Regions from separate parts of the Homo sapiens genome. Here regions 2 and 3 are each linked to region 1. The links come from fine-mapping of genetic effects on plasma protein levels. A gene starts in region 1. Each other region holds a variant in brackets. All regions are shown on one strand. Distances are from middle to middle.

What was found. PIP is the posterior inclusion probability: the model's chance that the variant is causal. The UK Biobank Pharma Proteomics Project read protein levels with antibody pairs (Olink). The fine-mapping took linkage between variants from a reference panel, not from the people measured, so its PIPs are less certain.
Region 2: its variant is fine-mapped to the plasma level of the VSIG10 protein (UK Biobank, PIP above 0.99). The variant lies in the coding sequence of VSIG10. If it changes the protein, the assay may bind it differently, which can mimic a change of level.
Region 3: its variant is fine-mapped to the plasma level of the VSIG10 protein (UK Biobank, PIP above 0.99). The variant lies in the coding sequence of VSIG10. If it changes the protein, the assay may bind it differently, which can mimic a change of level.

Annotation. Positions count from the first base shown.
Region 1 is chr12:118,099,589-118,107,641 of GRCh38, forward strand. VSIG10 (V-set and immunoglobulin domain containing 10) reads right to left here and starts at 4,423. Exons shown (of 9, transcript NM_019086.6): 1 at 4,005-4,423. The coding sequence starts at 4,083. LOC124903029 (a long non-coding RNA gene) reads right to left here and starts at 3,994. Exons shown (of 2, transcript XR_007063478.1): 1 at 3,401-3,994; 2 at 2,017-2,679. RefSeq lists a silencer at 4,267-4,516 and an enhancer at 6,158-6,873.
Region 2 is chr12:118,065,457-118,070,880 of GRCh38, forward strand. It overlaps VSIG10 (V-set and immunoglobulin domain containing 10), which reads right to left. Exons shown (of 9, transcript NM_019086.6): 8 at 2,921-3,141; 9 at 1-1,238. The coding sequence ends at 1,183. The region is part of intron 1 of LOC124903030 (a long non-coding RNA gene); the gene reads left to right. Among named protein-coding and RNA genes, the nearest start is that of WSB2, 7.0 kb to the left of the region's middle. The variant A/T (reference allele first, on the strand shown) is at 2,925.
Region 3 is chr12:118,071,167-118,079,219 of GRCh38, forward strand. VSIG10 (V-set and immunoglobulin domain containing 10) reads right to left here. Exons shown (of 9, transcript NM_019086.6): 5 at 2,533-2,826; 6 at 193-303. It overlaps LOC124903030 (a long non-coding RNA gene), which reads left to right. Exons shown (of 2, transcript XR_007063479.1): 2 at 5,008-6,814. Among named protein-coding and RNA genes, the nearest start is that of WSB2, 14 kb to the left of the region's middle. The variant ATGATCACCTCGGGCTGGG/A (reference allele first, on the strand shown) is at 2,688.

The sequences.
Region 1 (8,053 bases):
TGCAGGAATAGGAAGATGGGCAGAACCTGTTGGGGTGATAAAAATGATGAATTAGTGGTGATGGCTGTATAACCCTGGACTACACTAAAATCCCCTGGGTGGTACACTTAAAAAGGGTGAATTTTGTGGCATGTAAATTATATCTGAATAAAGCTGTTATAGAAAAAATAAACTGCCACTTGCCCCTGGCAATCCTTCCCATTTAAGTGAAAGAGTAATCATTATCTGTATTTGGCCTCTTGTCTGGTTAGAAGGGGCTCCCTTTTAAAGATCTGAAGCCAGCCTGGAGCCCCAGGAAGTTCTGATTCTCTCACCATTTTGGCCACACCATTCCCAAGACTTTTCAGCCAAGTCAGGATGAAAACAAACGAACAAACAAACAAAACACCAAATTTTAAAAACTAAGCCACTTGCTGAAAGGTGGAGAATGCCATCTAATGACAGAGATTCCAAAACAGCAAGAAATGCTTCTGAGCAATCACTTTAAAAAGCAGGTGAGGGCCGGGGGCGGTGGCTCACGCCTGTAATCCCAGCATTTTGGGAGGCCGAGGCAGGTGGATCACTTGAGGTCAGGAGTTGGAGACCAGCCTGGCCAACATGGTGAAACCTCATCTCTACTAAAAATTAGCTGAATGGCCGGGCGTGGTGGCTCCTGCCTGTAACCCCAGCACTTTGGGAGGCCAAGGTGGGCAAGATCAAGAGCTCGGGACCAGCCTGGCTAACACGGTGAAACCCCGTTTCTACTAAAAATACAAAAAGTTAGCCGGGCGTGGTGGCGCACACCTGTAATCCCACCTACTCGGGAGGCTGAGGCAGGAGAATCCCTTGTACCTGGGAGGCGGAGGTTGCAGTGAGCCAAGATCGCACCATTGCATTCCAGCCTGGGTAACAGAGCAAGACTCTGTCTCAAAAAAAAAAGCAGATAAGAATTCTTTTTATTTATTTATTTACTTTTTTTTTGAGATGAAGTCTCGCTCTGTTGCCTAGGCTGGAGTGCAAGGCGTAATTTCGGCTCACTGCAACCTCTGCCTTTGGGTTCAAGCAATTCTCCCGCCTCAGTCTTCTGAGTAGCTGGGATTACAGGCACCCGCCATCATGCCCCGCTAAGTTTTTGTATTTTTGTAGAGACAGGGTTTCACTGTGTTGGCCAGGCTGGTCTTGAACTCCTGACCTCAGGTGATCTGCCCACTTCGGCCTCCAAAAGTGCTGGGATTACAGGCGGGAGCCACCGCACCCAGCCAAGAATTATTTTTAAATTATTAGGATTGGGAACCCAAATTATCCAGTGGCAACCGCCACAATGGAAAGGAAGATGAACTTCAGAGTTACAGATGCAACATGTGTTCATGCAACCTGCAGACCTGCCCCTTGCCTAACTCCTTGGCAAAGAAATAAAGGAACAGTGGCTTGGAAAAAAGCCGTGGTGAAACTTTAGTCTTGGAACTTGAGCTAACATTGTTTTCTCCTCCAAGGCATAGAATGACATGATCACAAAAGAAACCATTTGAAGACATTTCACTTCTCCTGGTTTGGCTTACTCCGTTCTTTTTTAAACCACTGTATCTGAAGGTGCCCTTGGAGATCATCTAGTCCAGAGATGTGGCTGCCCTGTGGGCTGGGTTGAAGATGAGATTGAGTCCTGGTTCAGTGGAAAAGAACACAGTCATCGATTTAGTGATGTCTGACATAGACATGGAAGGGGTAGTTCTTGCCTGGCAGTCCTAAACCTCCTCACTTTACTACTGAGAAAATTGAGATTTAGGAAGATTAAGTTATCACTTAAAGTCCCAAGCAAATCACTGGGAGATGTGGGATTGTCACTCAGGTCACGTTACTCTGGTCTCCTGCACCAGACAGGATGCAATGATAAAATATAGTAACAAGTTTAGAAGTCATTCATATGGTGTCCAGAGGGTCCTTCTTGCCCCCCAACCTTAAATGTACAATAGAGAACCGAAGAGGGAGTAATATAAACTCCCTGATGCTGCCCATGTATTATTATTTACAGAGTAGGAGTTATACCCAAACATTTATTTATTTTTTTAAAGCAACTTTTCCCAAGAATAACCTAGGATTTACAATCCGGGGTAGCTAGTGGATGCATATAAGTTGTCTGGCATTGAATGTCAGGAGAAAAATTTTTTTCCCCAAAAACTCCCAACTTAAAAAACAAACACACAACAAAAATACACCAAGCTCAGGAAGCCCCCTGGCATCATACACAAAGGTGAAGCAGGTCTGGGCATCAAAATAGCTGGGCAAAGGCCCAACACGGTGGCTCACACCCATAATCCCAACACTTTGGGAGGCCGAGACAGGAGGATCGCTTGGGTCCAGGAGTTTAAGACCAGCCTGGGCTCAAGCGATTGTAGAGACCGTCTCTACAAAAAAATTTTAGAAATTAGCTAGGCGTGGTGGTGCACGCCTGTAGTCCCAGCTACTTGTAGGCTGAGGTGGGAGGATCAGTGCAGTGATTGCACCACTGCACTCCAGCCTGGGCAACAGAGCGAGAGCCTGGCTCGAAAAAAATAGCTGGCCATAGCAGTGGAGATAGGTTCCCCATGGGGCGGGTGGCAGTCAGCCTGAAAGCCAGGTCATTCCAGCAGGATGACTTCATCCCAGGGTTCTTCTCACTTCCCAGGTTCCTGGTGTTCATCGTGCAGGAAACACTGCAAACAGCTGGGGAGATGGGAATACTTGACAACCACCTTTCACGTCCAGAGATGACCAACTAGGAACTGTCCTCCCCCATCACCCACACCCCAGCACAGTGATTACTCAGCCAAATGCCTGCAGGGCCAGCAGGTAACACCCATGACTGAAGGTGGCGGGGCAAATATTACAACAGGGAGAGGTGGAACAAATTTGGGCTCATATGCCCTAGATAAGAGGATGACCACTGCCCAATTCCAACTGGGAAAGCAGGCCCCGTGTTGCCAGACCTTCAGATTTTTCCAGATAAACTGGAAATCTAGAGATGTTATTGTTTTTAAATGGTTGGTTAAAAAAAAAAAAGCAAAATAAAATTGTATGAGCCTAATAATTAGGAACTCTTGGCACTTGCTGCTAAGAAGCTCCAGCATACTTTACAACCCATCTCCAGAAACGTGCAAGAGGAGACCCGTTGGGTGGAGCAGACCCGGGAACACAAAAAGTAGCGCTCTGCCTGCATCCTGGCAAACTTCACCACCTCCTGGCTCCATCTCCTCTCCCTGCACCCCAGCCTCCTCCCAGCTTGTCACACTCCCAGCACACAGTAGGCATGCACAGTAGGCATGCTGGTGAATTAAATTCAAATATATATAAATAGTTCAATCTTTTTACATTCTACATATTTTTGTAAGCACCCCTCCAATTCTTTTTTCGTAGCAAAGCAGACCATAGATGAAGCATTTCAGACCTTTTGTCAATCATGTCAAGTGTGAGGGGAAGTCTTTTGTAAGTCAGCCAAGTATTTCAAAATAAAAAGCTTTTCCAAAAGTAAAGGCGGAAGACCCCGCTTTGAAGGCGCTGGTCGGCACAGGAAGACTTGCAAAGGTGTGTAGGGAAGTCCACCGGTTACAGGTGTAAGGCGAGTTCAACCTTGGGCAGAGGGAGGAGAAAAATAAAGTGGGAGTCTCGAGTTTGAGCACCAGCGTATCAGTTACTACTAAAACCAGAACGCGAATTTACATCCGACGCTTAAAAAAAAAAATCACTTTCCCGGCACACGTGCCTCTTTACTTTGCCCCCGCACGTCGGCTCGGCTCGGCTCCTCTGCAGCCTCACCGGCTGCCCACCCCAGGAGGCTGGGGGTATCTCGCCCCGCACCGGGCGCCCGGGAAAACTCCTTCCTGCAAAGACGGCCGAGCTGCGAGCAGGAAACCAAGACCCTCCTGGGGCAGCTTCTAGGCTGGGGCCACCACGGATCCGGGCGGAGTCGGAGGGAATTGGGTCTCTCGCTGTCCCCTCCCCACCGCTGACTGGGAAAACTCAACTTTTCCCTCCAGATCGCGGCCCCTTACCTACGGCGACCCAGCCGGCCAGGAGCGCCCCGAGGCAGACGAGGACGCGGGGCTCGGGCGCACTGCCGCCTGCGGCCATCTCGCCCCAGATCCCGGCTCAGGAAACGCAGGCTCGGGCTGGGCTGGACGTGTGTGCCCCAGGGCCCCGGGGCCCGGGGTACCGAGGGCTCCTCCCAGGTCCTCGGAACGGCAGAGTGGCCCCACTTCCTCGGCCCCCAGGAAGGATGCTTGGCTGAGCCGAGTGTCCAGGGCCGGCAGCGGAGCTCGGCTGCAGGCTCGGGTCCCCGCTCCCGAGCGCCCTGGCCGGGGAGGGAGGGCGCACCCCGCCCCCTGCGCCCGCCAGCCTACTCCTGCCGGCGGAAAACAACAGGAGCGGGATCCCTCCCGCCTCCCAGCCAGGCGGGAGCCCAACTTCCTCTACCTTGGCCCGGGAGGAGGGCTTTCTGCCGAGGGCGCGCCGAGCCGGGTCCCGCCGGGCCAGGGGCGGGGCGCGGAGGCTGGGCCCTCCCCAGTCCACTCCGCCCGGGACAGCAGTACCGAGTCGCGGGGACAGCGGGCGGGACGGAGCCCTGCAGCTGCCGCAGGACGCAACCCCCGCCGCTGCCCCGGGCTGCAGAACCCGGAGGAAGCGGTTGCCAAGCTGCAGAACGCAGGACCCCCCTGGCAGTCCCCGCTGAGCGTCTCGAGGGATTCCGGTCTGTGTCCCTGGGCGCAGGGCGGGCGCCAAGGCCGCCATCGCTTCCTTTCCTTACCCTCTGCAAAAGGGAGCCAGAGAAAGATGATCCCCTGACTTTCAGCCAAAGCAGCCACGAGACTCCGGTTCTCCAGTGAACTGGCTGGGACCACACAGTGACAGCGAGAGCCAAGGAGTCCCCAGGACGTGTTTCTCAAGAGTTTTGTTTTTGCTTTTCCCCTTTTAGTTCTCCCACCCCTTACCCAGTCAGATTCCCAGGCTAAGCTCCTCTCTTCCCTGCCATGCCCTCATCCCATTCTGTCCTGGGGAAAATGCGGCTTTGATATCCTCAGGAAGAGCCATCCATAAAACAGCCCTAGGAGAAACTTCCTGTTTCAAATAATAATAATATGGCAGGGCGTGGTGGCTCACACCTGTAATCCCAGCACTTTGGGAGGCCGAGGTGGGCGGATCACAAGGTCAGGAGTTCGAGACCAGCCTGACCAACATGGTGAAACCCTGTCTCTACTAAAAATACAACAATTAGCCGGGCATGATGGCGGGCGCCTGTAATCCCAGCTACTGGGTAGGCTGAGGCAGGAGAATCGCTTGAACCCAGCAGGCGGAGGTTGCAGTGAGCCGATATCACGCCATTGCACTCCAGCCTGGGCGACTGAGCGAGACTCCATCTCAAAATAAATATTAACGTTAAAAAAAAATCATTAGTTCTGTTGTTCAACGGTCCCCTTATTGAAATGCTTCTTCCATGAGGAAATCCTCTTGAAACCACTTTAAAAAAAAAATGTTTCTCCTGGTGAACTGAGCAATGAAGCTGAACAGTTCTGCCTTTTTTACTTTTCTGTTTTTTATTTTTTTGAGACAGGGTGTCACTCCAGTTGCCCAGGCTAGAGTGCAGTAGCACAATCATACCTCGCTGCAGCCTCAAACTACCAGGCTCAAGTGATCCTCCCACCTCAGCCTCCCGAGTAGCTGGGACTACAGGTGTGCAGCACCACGCCCAGCTAATTTTTGTAATTTTAGTAAAGACAGCGTTTCTCCATGTTACCCAGGCTGGTCTCGAACTCCTGACCTCAAGTGATCCACCCGCCTTGGCCTGCCAAAGTGTTGGGATTACAGGTGCGAGCCACCGCGCTCAGCCCTTTTTTATTCTTTGCTCAAATATTTTTAAATAACTGTTCATCAGCCGGGCACGTTGGCTCATGCCTGTAATCCCAGCACTTTGGGAGGCCGAGGCAGGTGGATCACCTGAGGTAAGGAGTTCGAGAGTAGCCTGGCCAACATGGTGAAACTTCGTCTCTACTAAAAATACAAAAATTAGCCCGGTGTGGTGGCAGGCGCCTGTAATCCCAGCTACTTGGGAGGCTGAGGCAGGAGAATCGCTTGAACCCAGGAGGTGGAGGTTGCAGTGAGCCGAGATCGCGCCATTGCACTCCAGCCTGGGGAGAAGAGCGAGACTTCGTCTCAAAAAAAATAAATAAATAAAAAATAAAATAAAATAACTGTTCATCAGATTCTTGACAGGAATTTTGTTTGTTTGTTTTTTGAGACGGAGTCTCGCTCTGTCGCTGCAAGCTCCGCCTCCCAGGCTCATGCCATTCTCCTGCCTCAGCCTCCCAAGTAGCTGGGACTACAGGCTCCTGCCACCACGCCCGGATAATTTTTGTATTTTTAGTGGAGACGGGGTTTCACCGTGTTAGTGTGGGGAAAAGCAAGAGAGATCAGATTGTTACTGTGTCTGTGTAGAAAGAAGTAGACATGGGAGACTCCATTTTGTTATGTACTAAGAAAAATTCTTCTGCCTTGAGATTCTGTGACCTTACCCCCAACCCCGTGCTCTCTGAAACATGTGCTGTGTCAAACTCAGGGTTAAATGGATTAAGGGCGGTGCAAGATGTGCTTTGTTAAACAGATGCTTGAAGGCAGCATGCTCCTTAAGAGTCATCACCACTCCCTAATCTCAAGTACCCAGGGACACAAACACTGCGGAAGGCCGCAGGGACCTCTGCCTAGGAAAGCCAGGTATTGTCCAAGGTTTCTCCCCATGTGATAGTCTGAAATATGGCCTTGTGGGAAGGGAAAGACCTGACTGCCCCCAGCCCGACACCCGTAAAGGGTCTGTGCTGAGGAGGATTAATATAAGAGGAAGGCATGCCTCTTGCAGTTGAGACAAGAGGAAGGCATCTGTCTCCTGCCCCTCCCTGGGCAATGGAATGTCTCGGTATAAAACCCGATTGTACGTTCCATCTACTGAGATAGGGAAAAACCGCCTTAGGGCTGGAGGTGGGACCTGCGGGCAGCAATACTGCTTTGTAAAGCATTGAGATGTTTATGTGTATGCATATCTAAAAGCACAGCACTTAATCCTTTACCTTGTCTATGATGCATAGACCTTTGTTCACGTGTTTGTCTGCTGACCCTCTCCCCACAATTGTCTTGTGACCCTGACACATCCCCCTCTCGGAGAAACACCCACGAATGATCAATAAATACTAAGGGAACTCAGAGGCTGGCGGGATCCTCCATATGCTGAACGCTGGTTCCCCGGGTCCCCTTATTTCTTTCTCTATACTTTGTCTCTGTGTCTTTTTCTTTTCCAAGTCTCTCGTTCCACCTTACGAGAAACACCCACAGGTGTGGAGGGGCAACCCACCCCTTCAGTTAGCCAGGATGGTCTCGATCTCCTGACCTCGTGATCCACCTGCCTCGGCTTCCCAAAGTGCTGGGATTACACGCGTGAGCCACCACACCCGGCCTGGAATTTTTTTTTTTTTTTTTTTTTAGACAGAGTCTCCCTATATCATCCAGGCTGAAGTGCAGTGGTGTAATCATACCTCACTGCAGCCTCAACCTCCTAGGCTTAAGTCAATCCTCCCAGAGTGCTGGAATTACAGGCATGAGCCACTGCACCCAACTTGGTTCTTGCTTTTCATGTTTGACCTTGTGGAGATCCTATACTAACCAGACCTGTTTCCTGTATCCTCAGTACCTGCCAGCTAGTTGCCATTCTAATATACATTTGTTGAGTAAACAAATGAGAATTGATTAGTTTTGATATTGTAGTTCCTCAGCTTTTCTGGCAAACACCTTACATCCTCACCTGCAATAAACAAGCGGTAAATAAAATCAGTAACTGGGCCAGGCAAGGTGGCTCATGCCTATAATCCCAGCACTCAGGAAAGCCAAGGTGGGCAGATCCCTTGAGGTCAGGAGTTCGAGACCAGCCTAGCCAACACAGTGAAACCCCATCTCTACTAAAAATAAAAAATTAGCTGGGCATGGTGGCGCATGCTCGTAATCCCAGCTACTTGAAAGGCTGAGGCAGGAGGGTTGCTGGAACCTGGGAGGTGGAGGTTGT
Region 2 (5,424 bases), 35 kb before region 1:
GGAAATAAAACTGGTTAAGACAGTGCTCTGATATGCTTAGTTTAGTTCCTTCATCCAAGAAAACAGACCTTCCCCAACCACACCTGCAGGGTTACTTCAGACAACCAGCTTCTCATTTTAGAGTCCCAGTTCTTAGAAATGGAGAAAGGAAGTTCCCCTTTAAGCCCTAGGTCCTGCCCACTAGAGCAGATACGCAACTTTAAAGAGTACAAATTCAAGTCAGATTTTCATATTTAGCAGGTGATCTTACAAAGATATTTTTCAATAAATGGATTATGTTTTTCAATGAATGGATCTTACAAAGATGTTTTTCAATAAATGGAAGGAAAGATGTGTGTGCTTGGTTTTTTTGCTGAGACCCAAATGTTGCCAGTGCAATCCCCCACCAGGGGTACAGGTCAAATCAAAGCTGAATGAAGAGCTCATCTTCGATGTAGCTTTCCAAGCTTTCAGAACGAGACAATAATAAGTGAGCAGCTTCCTCATCTATTTTACAGGTGAGGAAATTGAGGCCAAGAGAGAGGTAAAGAGTCGTGCTCTAGCCCATGAAAGAAGGAAGCAACAGAGCCCAGATTCAACTTCAGGTGTTTCTAACTCCAAAGCCTGAACCAAACTGCCTTCCTCTGATTGGCATTGGTACCTGGAACTTCACCTGTTCCAAGGAGCTGATATTTGCAAGGTGCCGTGGCTGAGGCAGGAGAATCGCTTGAACCTGGGAGGCAGAAGTTGTGGTGAGCCAAGATCGTGCCATTGCACTCCAGCCTGGGCAATAGAGGGAGACTCCGTCTCAAAAAAAAAAAAAAAAAAAAAAAAAAGCGGCAAAAGGCACCAAGACCCAGTGCTTCCCTGACCTCTGTTCCCTCTAAATCAGCATCTATCACAGTAGATCAACCTGGATAAAGCCAGGATTCACAGCAGAAGTGGCACCTCAGACACCAAAGCAGCTTTCCTTCTCAAAGCTTTTAAACATCATTGGGAAAACTTAGAGCAAATCAAACCAATGTTTTTCAATACATGGAAGGAAAGATGTGTGTGCTTGGTTTTGTTTTTTGCTGAGACCCAAACATTGTTAGTGCAAGCCCCCGCCAGGGGTGCAGGTGGAGTCAAAGCTGAATGAAGAGCTCGTCTTCAATGTAGCTCTCCAAGCTTTCAGAGCAAGACAACCATGGACCATCCTCTTCTTCAGACTGGCCTGTCTTCTTCTTGAACAATGTCACTTTGCTCCTCACTGCTGTCATCTGTATGGGGGGAAATAAACCCAATGCTTTGTAATCAGAGTGTGATTCTATTTCCACCGTCAGTCATCAATCATCTCAGTGATTTCTAGTCCTTTCCTGGTGAGCCACAGAATGGGATCTCATGGAGAAGGTAGGGCAGCGTGTGTTTTCCCCTTTTCACCTGTTTTCTACATTCAGAACCTCTAGGCATGCTTGATACCAGTCACCCTTCATGTCCTCAGCTCACGCCCCTCCCCTCACCTGAAACGCCCTCTCTCCTTTCTGCTTATTCCAACTCAGCCGTCTTAACGCCTTGCTTCATGTCTACCTCTTCCATAAAGCTTCCCCTGACCAGCACACCTCTCCGGGCTCTTATCTTTCTCTGAGGTCCTATAAATTTTGGTGCAGTGGCACGATCTCATCTCACTGCAGCCTCAACTTCCCAGGCTCAGGTGATTCTCCCACCTCAGCCTCCCAAGTAGCTGGGGCTACAGGTACATGCCACACACCCAGCTAATTTTTTGTATTCTTAGTAGAGACACGTTTTGCCATGTTCCCAAGGCTAGTCTCGAACTCCTGAGCTCCAGCGATCCACCCACTTTGGCCTCCCAAAGTGCTGGGATTACAGGCATGAGCAACCGTGCCTATAATTTTTAAATGTGTTGTCCATCAGGCAATTAATCAAATATCTTCCTGCAACAGCTCCTCTACTGCTCTCTCAGTGTGTTGGTTCAATCTTGCTCCTGTTTCCATTTCCCCTGCAGGTTTTAGTTTGTTCCCCTAAACTGGCCTTTTTTTTTTTTTTTTTGAGACAGAGTCTCACTCTGTCACCCAGGCTGAAGTGCAGTGGCACGATCTCGGCTCACTGCAGCCTCCGTCTCCCGGGTTCAAGTGATTCTCCTGCCTTGGTCTCCCAAGTAGCTGGGATTACAGGCACCTACCACACCCAGCTGATTTTTGTATTTTTAGTAGAGATGGGGGTCTCACCATGTTGGCCAGGCTGGTCTCAAACTCCTGACCTCAAATGATCCACCTGCCTCAGCCTCCCAAAATGCTGGGATTATAGGCGTGAGCCACCGCACCTGGCCTGAACTGGTCTTGTAAAGCTCCCTGCATGCAGACACTACCAGTCTCTATTTTCTGTTCTCCCACAATGCCAATATTGTGCCTACCCTAGACCAGGACCTTGATAAGTGTTTGTCAATTTGATTTTCATGTTGGTAGTTGATAGTAGTCTCAGGTTCTAGACTAAAGTTTAGCTATCTTCCCCAGCCTTTTAAAAAAACTAAACTCACCCCTTAGAGATTTCCTGCTGGGAAGCTCACCGCAGCAGTTCAGAGGTTTGTGGGCTTTTTTTTTTTTTTTTTTTTTTCTGAGGCAGGTTTCCTACTGCTGCCCAGACTGGAGTGCAGTGGTGTGATCATAGCTCACTGCAGCCTGGACTTCCTACACTCAAGTGATCCTCAGCCTCCCAAGTAGCTGGGAACACAGGTGCACACCACCATGACCGGCTAATTTTTCTTTTTTTTTTTTTTTTTTTTCGTAGAGACAGAGTCTCACCATGTTGCCCAGGCTAGTCTTGAACTTCTGGGCTTAAGTGATCTTCCCACCTTGGCCTCCCAAAGTGCTGGGATTATAGGCGTGAGCCAACGCGCCTTTTTTTGTTTGTTTTCTGTTTGTTTGTTTAAGGAAAAAGAGCTTACCTTG[A/T]AGATCCTGGAATCCATTTCCCATCTGTTCTATGTTCCCATTCACCAAGGCGGTCACTCTGTGAATGTGGTCCTGCTTAGGTATTTCTTTTGGCAACTCCTCTCTCTCACGTGCTCCCTCCTGTTCCCCTACTGCAGCATCTTCCTCCTCCTCCTCCTCCTCCTCCTCTTCCTCTTCTGAATCCACCAAAACCATGACATCATCCATGTTTTGTCCCCTAATTTCCAAAGGGGAAAAATAATCAAGAAGATTTCTTATTTTTCCCAACTTCAGCCCTCACTGAATAGGAAACACTAGATTCTTTGCAACCCCATTAGTAATATGGAAAATTACAGCTTGGTGAAGTAATGAGGTGATGGTGTGGTAACCGCAGAGATGCTGCCACAAATTGCTTCAGATGATGGTATCTCATGCTGGTTTATTACTCCCCTGCTCCTTGGGCAGGTGACCATATTGTCCCAGGCATCTACCATTTCATGTCCCCTTACAGCAGGTAGACAAATGTTTTTCCTTTTCTGAAATGCCCTCATTCTGCTCTACTTACCAAAATCTCTCCCCTTCCTCATTTTGGAAGACCCAGGTAAAGTCCTCTCCCTCCTGCTAAAGACCTAAATTAATGACTGCATTTAGAGTCCATGCTATAGTTTATTTATCACCAGCTCACTAGCTTGCCTACCCAGCCAGACTTTGCATTTCAGACTATACATTTCTTTTTTTTTTCTTTTTCGGGATAGAGTCTTGCGCTGTTGCCCAGGCTAGAGTGCAGTGGCGCAATCTTGGCTCACTGCAACCTCCACCTCCTGGGTGCAAGCAATTCTCCTGCCTCAGCCACCCAAGTAGCTGGGACTACAGGCATGCGCCACCACATCTGGCTAATTTTTGTATTTTTAGTAGAGACATGGTTTCAACATGTTGGCCAGGCTGGTCTCGAATGCCTGGCCTCAAGTGATCCAACCACCTTGGCCTCCCAGAGTGCTGAGATTATAGGCATGAGCCACTGTTGTGCCCGGCCTGGACTGTGCATTTCTTCTTCTTCTTCTTCTTCTTTTTTTTTTTTTTTTTGAGACAGAGTTTCATTCTTGTTGCCCAGGCTGGAGTGCAATGGCACAATCATGGCTCACCGCAACCTCTGCCTCCCAGGTTCAAGCAATTCTCCTGCTTCAACCTCCCAAGCAGCTGGGATTACAGGCATGCGCCACTACATGCGGCTAATTTTTTGTATTTTTAGTAGAGATGGGGTTTCTGCATGTTGGTCAGGCTGGTCTCGAACTCCCGACCTCAGGTGATCCACCCGCCTCGGCCTCCCAAAGTGCTGGGATTACAGGCGTGAGCCACTGCACCCGGCCTGGACTATGCATTTCTTAAGGAAGAAGAATGAACGCCACAGGTCAGTCACCTGCCCGAGGAGCTGTGTTACATTGTCATTTAATCTTCACAAACCCCCTGGTGAAACAAATCAGGAGACTAAGGCTCAGAAAGGGTCAGGGATTTTCTATGGGTACAGGGCTTGGGAATGGCACAGCTGTCATTTGAACCCAGGTCCAATGGTCTCAGTGCCTTTTCCTACTACACCACACTGATGCCTCCAGTGAGAAATAAGCCCAGGGAATGACAGACTTACTAAGAATGGCCCTCCAATACAGGGCAGTAAAGGTAATGTTTTGCTACGAAAGATGGTCCCAGGTCAATAATATCCTGTCATTTTGAAGAGGTAAAGAACTGTTTTTCCATAGGATCATAGAGAAGAGTACTCTGCTCCCACCCAGAATCTCCTTAGGAAATGAAATACACAAGTTCCGTTTGGTTCCTTCGCCCCTACTGGGGTTTCCTTTTGGGAGGGGGTTCTGGGCATGCTCATAGTAGTCTTCCAAAACACTGTAAAACTGGCTGGGTGCAGTGGCTCGTGCCTGTAATCCCGGCACTTTGGGAGGCCGAGGCGGGCAGACCACTTGAGGCCAGGAGTTTGAGACTAGCCTGGGCAACATGGTGAAACCCTGTCTCTACTAAAAATACAAAAATTAGCCAGGCTTGATGGTGCGCACCTGTAATCCCAACTACTCGGAAGGCTGAGGCAGGAGAATGGCCTCAACCTGGGAGGTAGGGATTGCAGTGAGCTGAGACTGCACCACTGCACTCCAGCCTGAGCAAGAGAGAGAGATTCTGTCTCAAAAAAAAAAAAAAAAAGAAAAAAGAAAAAGAAAAAAAAACTTAAGACTATGACTGATTCTTTCTTTTAGCTCTTTTTAGAAAATTAAATAAAACAAATGCATGAATGACTGGCTCAAAATGTACACATTGTCTTTCTGTCTCAATGACAGACCTGCAATGTGTCCAGCCCTGAGGTTTGGCGCTGTAAAAGAACACAGACTTTGGAATTGATTAGACCTGGACCTGAAGGAAGGCACTGCTGCTTTCTTCTGGAATGAGCTTGCAGAAATTACTTCACTGAGCCTCCATCCCCTTATCTGGAAAATGGAGATGTCACCACCACCCTGAGGAG
Region 3 (8,053 bases), 28 kb before region 1:
AACTGACTCAATATGACAGGTGATAGGGTGTCCCGGGATGGTACTTAGGTGACTTATTACTGTGTATCTTGACCCAGCAAAGAAGCCCAGAGAACAGAACTTCAGGTGGGAGCAAGGCAGGGGCCATCCTTCCCCATCCCGCACCTTTTCAAAAGTCTGGAAGAGAAGCTAAAGGACCCAGGGAGTCCTTACCTTTCCAGCAGAACACAGGGCTATAATGCAACAGAAGCCCTGAGATAATGGCCAGTCCCAGCAGAAGGAGGCTCACAATGGTTCCCACAATCCCCCCGATATTTAAAGGTTCTGTAAAGACAAATCACACCATTGATTCTTCCATCAGATATGTGTGCAATTAGAACAACACCTCCCTTTCTCTGCGTGGATCCAGTTCTTGTCTTGATTCCTGACCTTGGGTAAGGCTTATGACCTGTCTGTAATGCCAGATAAATATTTTATCACCCAACCTCAGAGAGTTTGTGGGGATCAGATGGAGCAGGGAATGTGAACAAACAATGGAAAGTTAAAATCTCTCTGTCTACCAAACACTGAGACTATTTCTAAGGCCATGGTAAGTAAGAGTGTTGAGAGTTATCAATGCCATGATAAACAGAGTGATCAACGGAACAGAACAGAGAGTCCAGGAACGGGTCCACACGTAAGTATAATTGATATATGACAGGGTCTTGAGCAAAGGAAGCACTATTTAAGAATTGGTACTAGAGCCCGGGCGCAGTGGCGCATGCCTGTAATCCCAGCACTTTGGGAGGCTGAGGAGGGCGGATCACCTGAAGTCGGGAGATCGAGACCAGCCTGACCAACATGTTAAAACCCCGTCTCTACTAAAAATACAAAATTAGCCAGGTGTGGTGGTGCATGTCTGTAATCCCAGCTACTTGGGAGGCTGAGGCAGGAGAATCACTTGAACCCGGGAGGCGGGGGTTGCGGTGAGCCAAGATCGCGCCATTGCACTCCAGCCTGGGCAACAAGAGCGAAATTCCATCTCAAAGAAAGAAAGAGGGCCGGGCGCGGTGGCTCACGCCTGTAATCCCAGCACTTTGGGAGGCCGAGGCAGGCGGATCACGAGGTCAGGAGGTCGAGACCATCCTGGCTAACACAGTGAAACCCCATCTCTACTAAAAATACAAAAAATTAGCCGGGCACAGCGGCGGGCGCCTGCAGTCCCAGCTACTTGGGAGGCTGAGGCAGGAGAATGGCATGAACCCAGGAGGTGGAGCTTGCAGTGAGCCGAGATCGCACCACTGCACTCCAGCCTGGGTGACAGAGCAAGACTCCGTCTCAAAAAAAAAAAAGAAAGAAAGAGGAGGGGAGGGGAGGGAAAGAAAAGAAGGAAGGTAGGAAAGGGAAAAGGGAGAAGAGAAAGGAAAAGGGAGAAGGGAAGGGAAGAAAGAGGCCAGGTGTGGTGGCTCATGCTTGCAATCTCAACACTTTGGGAGGCTGAGATGGGAGGCTCACTTCAGGCCAGGAGTTCAAGACCAACCTGGTCAACACAGTGCGACCTCATCTGTATAAAAAATAAAATAAAAAGAAATAAGTAGAGACATATATAGTAAAACTTAAAATTCAGGACCATGGTTACCTTTCGAGAGAGGCCCAAGATGAGACTAGGCCTACAGGGAGGGTTCCCAGGTAAAATTCAGTATGCCCAGTGAAATTTGGATTTCAGATAAACAATGAATAGTTTTTTTAGTGTAAGTATGTCTCATGAAATATTTGGGACACACTTATACTTAAAAGTATTTATTTTTCTAAACTCAAATTTAAGCAGGCATCCTGTTTTTAAAGTTCTATTGCTATTTTCTTCTTTTTGAAGTGGATTCTCGCTCTGTCACCCAAGCTGAAGTGCAGTGGTGTGATCTCGGCTCACTGCAACCTTCGCCTCCCAGATTCAAGCAATTCTGCCTCAGACTTCCGAGTAGCTGGGATTACAGGCACCTGCCACCATGCTCAGCTAATGGTCTCGAACTCCCAACCTCAGGTGATCTGCCCATCTCAGCCTCCCAAGTAATTTTGTATTTTTAGTAAAGACGAGGTTTCACCATACTAGCCAGGCTGGTCTCAAACTCCTGGCCTCAAGTGATCCACCCGCCTCGGCCTCCCAAAGTGCTGGGATTACAGGCGTGAGCCACTGTGCCCAGCCCTATCGTTGTTTCCAAATCTGGCCCTGAGACATACAAGTAACCTAATGCATGTTGGTACTATTCTGTATCCTCAGTGGGATGATAGTTTCTTAGGTGTTCATTTTGCTGTTATGCTTTACAACTGACATACACTAGATATCTATTCGTTGGTGTGTATAGATATTATGTAATTTTTGCTACCTATGGAAATATTAGTGAGTTTAGGGTTGGATAATTTCTTCCAGCCACCTTGTCAAGTCATAAGCAAGCAGATATGCCTTCTCCCAGTTGGCAGTGACCCATGTGTAGGGAGGCACCAGGCTGTCCTCATGCTGATGCTGGGTGCTCTGAAGCTCTGAACCCTCCCTCCTTCAGGCCCAGTTCCACCACTCACCTTTCACACTCAGCCAGATTTCCATCTCCCTCACCCCTACAGGGCTGTCAGCTCGGCAGATGTAGTAGCCCTCATCCAGGTCCTGGGAGCAGTTGTGGATAGTGAGGGTGGAGTTCTGGCCATCCTGGGTAATGAGATGGCGGCTGCTAGGCTGG[ATGATCACCTCGGGCTGGG/A]TAAGGTTCCTCAGCCACAGGATCTTGGCAGGGGGGTAGGCCCCAGACACCTGGCATGTAAGCGTCACATTGCCCCCAGTGAAGCAAGTCTTCATGGGCTCAGAGAGAAGGGAGGGACCCCCTGGTGATCAGAAGGTAAACAAAGACAAATGTTTAAAGAGATTCAAGTCATGGCCTGAGATCTGCAGGAAAACTGCAGTAGTTTTTTGTTTTGTTTTGTTTTGTTTTGAGATGGAGGTTTTGCTCTGTTGCCCAGGCTGGAGTGCAGTGGTGCGATCTCAGCTCACTGCAACCTCTGCCTCCCTCCCGGGTTCAAGCAATTCTCCTGCCTCAGCCTCCCGAGCTGGGATTACAGGCATGCGCCACCACACCTGGCTAATTTTTGTATTTTTAGTAGAGACAGGGTTTCACCATGTTGCCCAGGCTGGTCTCAAACTCCCAACCTCAGGTGATTTGCCCATCTCAGTCTCCCAAAGTGCTGGGATTACAGGCGTGAGCCACCGCATCCGGCCCCAGTCCCCTTTATCTGTGATTTCACTTTCTGAGGTTTCAGTTACCATGGTTGACTACAGTCCAAAAATACTAAATGGAAAATTTCAGAAATGAACAATTTTTTTTTTTTTTTGAGATGGAGTCTCACTTTGTCGCCCAGGCTGGAGTGCAGTGATGCAATCTCAGCTCACTGCAATCTCCACCTCCTGAATTCAAGAGATTTTCCTGCCTCAGCCTCCCAAGTGGCTGGGATTACAGGCATGAGCCACCACGCCCACCTAATTTTTGTATTTTTAGTAGAGACGGGGTTTCACCATATTGGCCAGGCTAGTCTCAAACTCCTGACCTCAGGTGATCCACTTGCCTTAGCCTCCCAAAGTGCTAGGATTACAGGCGTGAGCCACCGTGCCGGGCCAATTCATAAATTTTTTATTTTTTCATTTCTTGCAGTACTTTTAAGTATATTCACAATTTCCTAAGTTTTAAACTGCACATTGTTCTGAGTCGTGTGACGAAATCTCACACCATCTGCATGAGCCTTTCTTCATCACAAGAAGGCTGAGTAGATATTTTGAGAGAAAGATCACATTCGCATACCTTTTATGACAGTATATTGTTATACTTGTCTATTTTTTATTAGTTACTATTGTTAATCTCTTATTGTGCCTAATGTATAAATTAACCTTATCATAAGTATTTATGTATAAGAAAAAGCATAGTATATATATGTATATATGTATATATGTGTATATGTATATATATGTGTATATATGTATATATGTGTATATGTATATATATGTATATATATGTATATATGTGTGTATATATATATGTGTGTGTGTGTATATATGTGTGTGTGTGTATATATATATATAGGGTTCAGTGCTACCCATGGCTTCAGGCATCCACTGGGGATCTAGGAACATATCCCTCATGGGTAAGGCAGGAACACTACATTTCCTTCCTAATGAAGCAACTCCAGAAATTTCTTTTTTTCTTTTTTTGTTTTTGAGACAAGGTCTCGCTCTGTCACCCAGGCTGGAGTGCAGTGCTGTGATCTTGGCTCACTGCAACCTCTGCCTCCCAGGTTCAAGTGATTCTCATGCTTCAGCCTCCCAAGTAGCTGGGATTACAGGTGCCTGCCACCATGCCTGGCTAATTTTTGTACTTTTAGTAGAAACAGGGTTTCACCATGTTGGTCAGGCTGGTCTTGAACTCCTGACCTCAAATGATCCTCCACCTTGGCCTCCCAAAGTGCTGGGATTACAGGCATGAGCCACCGTGCCTGGCCAACTCCAGAAATTTCTCCACCACACCTCGTCTTACATCATAATAAGCCTAAGATTACTAGGCATTTACTGTGGGCAAGGCACTGTTACATGTATTAACCCAATTCACTCTCACAGCAACCCTGTTATTATGCCCATTTTGCAGATAAGGAAACTGAGGCACAGAGAAAGTTAAGTAATTTGCTGAATGCTACAGAACTAAATAGGCAATGCAGCTAGGATTCAGAGTGATCAACTGCCCCAGTCTGCCCAGGACGTGGAGTATTCCCAGAATGAGGAGTTTTCAGTCCTAAAACCAGGAGAGTTCTGTGCAAACCAGGATAAACTGGCTACTGTATCCATAAGCCTTCCTTCTATGCTATACACTTTTACACATAAAAACTGTACTGATCGTATAAAAATGGACACATATCTGACAAGGATTTCAAGGGGACAAGAGGGCAGCTGTATTTGTTTCCAATTGCTGATGTAATAGATTGTGACAAACTTAGTGGCTTAAAGCACATTTATTCTCTTAACAGTTGTGGAGGCCAGGAGTCTAGAACGTCTTACAAGGTTAACATCAAGATGTTGGCAGAGCTGGTTCCTTTTGGACGCTCTAGAGCAAGCTTTTCCAACCTGCAGCTGCGGGCTAAATTCGGCCCAGGATGGCTTTGAATGTGAGGACATTTTTGTTTATCTGTGTGATGGATATCATGAAAATTATGCACGGTCCCTTTTTTTTTTTTTTGGCTCATCACCTATCGTTAGTGTTAGTGTTTGTGTGAAATACATTCCCATGATCAAATTACCTCCCACCAGGTCCCTCTGCCAATATTTGGAGTTACAATTCAACATGAGATTTGGGTGGGGACACAGAGCCAAACCATATCATGGTGTTTCGCTGTGTTGCCCAGGCTGGTCTCAAACTCCTGGGCCCAAGCAATATGCCCGTCCTTGGCCTCCCAAAGTGCTGGGATTACAGTCATGAGCTACCACATCTGACTGATCCTGGCGCTTCTGATCTCTCTTACCTTTCCCTTTTTTTTGTTTTGAGACAGAGTTTCACTCTGACACCCAGGCCTGGAGTGACCGCTCACTGCAGCCTCAACCTCCTAGGTACAAGCAATACTCTCACATCAGCCTCCCCAGTAGCTGGGATTATAGGTGCATACCACCATGCCCAGCTACTTTATTTATTTTTTATTGTTTGTAGAAACAAGGTCTGTGTTGCCCAGGCTGGTCTCGAATTCCTAGCCGTAAGCTATCCTCCTGCCTCTGACTCCCAAAGTGCTGGGATTACAGGCGTGAGCCACCACGCCCGGCCTTCTCCCTTCTTACAAAGAAAGACATCAGTCATTGGATTACAGCCTACTCTAATCCACTATGACCTTATCTTAACTTGATTCCATCTGCAAAGACTCTTTCTGAATAAAGTCATATCCACAGGTATTAGGGTTTGGACTTGAACATATCTACTGGGGGGACACAACTGAACCCCCAACCTCCACCCAGCTTTATCAGTACTTTACACACGATGCCCCGGCCACACTGGTCTTCTCTCGGGTCCTCAAATGCCAAGTTTGTTTCCACCTCAGGGCCTCTGCGTTTGCTGTTGCCTCTGCCAGGAACACTCAGCCCACGGATCTTCACCTAGCCAGCTCCTTCTCATTCTAAGGATAGATTATTACCATCTCACGGAGACCTCCCTGCCACCCTAGGAAAAGTGCCCCTCTTCTTATAAAGGCCTCCCTTTTATATATACCATTTTATTATCCTCATATTATCATCATATCTGGACCTATCTTACTTGTTTTTGTACTTTCTGTCTTCCTTCTACCCCCATGCCACCCAGAATATAAGCTCTGTGAAAGAGGAATGTTTGTGGTTTTAATATGTACAGACATTCTCTGACACTCCTCCCTTCAAAAAGTGGTGCCTAATTCTTCCCAGCCCTCTTCAATGTGGGCTGGACTTATTTCTAAGACACAGAGTGTGGCAGAAGGGATCCCATGTAACTCCTGAGGCTAGGTCATAGAAAGGATAGCATCAGCTTGACTCACTCCATTTTGGATCATTTGCTCTGAGGGAAGCCATCTGCCATGTTGGAAGGACACTCAAGCAGCCTTATGGAGAATCCCACATGGAGAAGAAATAGTTGCCAGGCATGGGAGTGAGGACTTCAAAAGTAGATCTTTCAGATGATTTCAGCCCCGCAACCTTCAATTCTTCCGGCTGACACCCCAGACATACAGAGCCAAGACAAACCATCCCCAATGCCCACTGTGCCCTCTCTGAATTCCTGACCCACAGAAATCATCAGATAATAAATGGTTATTCTTGTTTTAAGCCACTATGTTTGAGAGTAATTTGTTACATAACTAGAAGCTATAGTTTGAATGTTTGTCCCCTCCAAATCTCATGTTTAAATTTGATCCTCAGTGTTGGAGGTAAGGCCTAATGGAAGGTGTTTGGGTAAGTGAATTCTCATTCTATTAGCTTACTGCAAAAGTAATTACAATTTTTGTCACTATTTTCTTTTTTTGAGATGGAGTCTCACTCCATCGCCCAGGCTGGAGTGCAGTGGTGCGATCTCGGCTCACTGGAAGCTCCGCCTCCTGGGTTCACGCAGTTCTCCTGCCTCAGCCTCCCGAGTAGCTGGGACTACAGGCATGCGCCACCACGCCCAACTAATTTTTGTATTTTTAGTAGAGATGGGGTTTCATCATGTTGGCCAGGCTGGTCTCAGACTCCTGACCTCAAGTGATCCACCTGCCTCAGCCTCCCAAAGTGCTGAGATTACAGGTGTGAGCTACCACGCCCAGCCACTGCTGGTTGTTAAAAAGAGTTTGGCACCTCCCTTCTCTCTCTTGCTTCCTCTCTCACTATGGAACTCTGCATAAGCTGGCTCCCCTTTACCTTCTGTCATGAGCAGAAGCAGCCTGACGCTCTCACCAGAAGCCAAGCAGATGCTGGTGCCATGTTTCTTGCACAGCCTACGGAACTATGAGCAAATAAAGTAATTTTCAGCTAGGTGCGGTGGCTCACACCTATAATCCCAGCACTTTAGGAGGCCGAGGCAGGTAGATCACTTGGGGTCAGTTCGAGACCAGCCTGGCCAACATGGTGAAACCCCATTTCTACTAAAAATACAAAAATTAGCTGGGCATGATGGTGCACGCCTGTAGTCCCAGCTACTCAAGAGGCTAAGGCAGGAGAATTGCTTGAACCTGGGAGGCAGAGGCTGTAGTGAGCCAAGATCATGCCACTGCACTCCAGTCTGGGCAACAGAGCAAGACTCTGCCTAAAAAAAAAAAAAAAAAAAAAAAAAAAAAAATTTTCTTTATAAACTACCCAGCCTCAGGTATTCCTTTACAGCAACAGTAAATGGACAGACACAAAAGACGATGAACCTCATATGTCTTGTTCACTGCTCCATCCTCAGCACGTAGAAACTGTACCTGGCACATAGCAGGGGTTCAATTAGTATCTGTCAAGTGGAAAATAGCTGGGACTAGAATGAAGAAGCTTGAGCTAAGCATCTCTAAAATTTGAAAAAAGTGAAACATAAAGAAAAAGAAAGGGAGA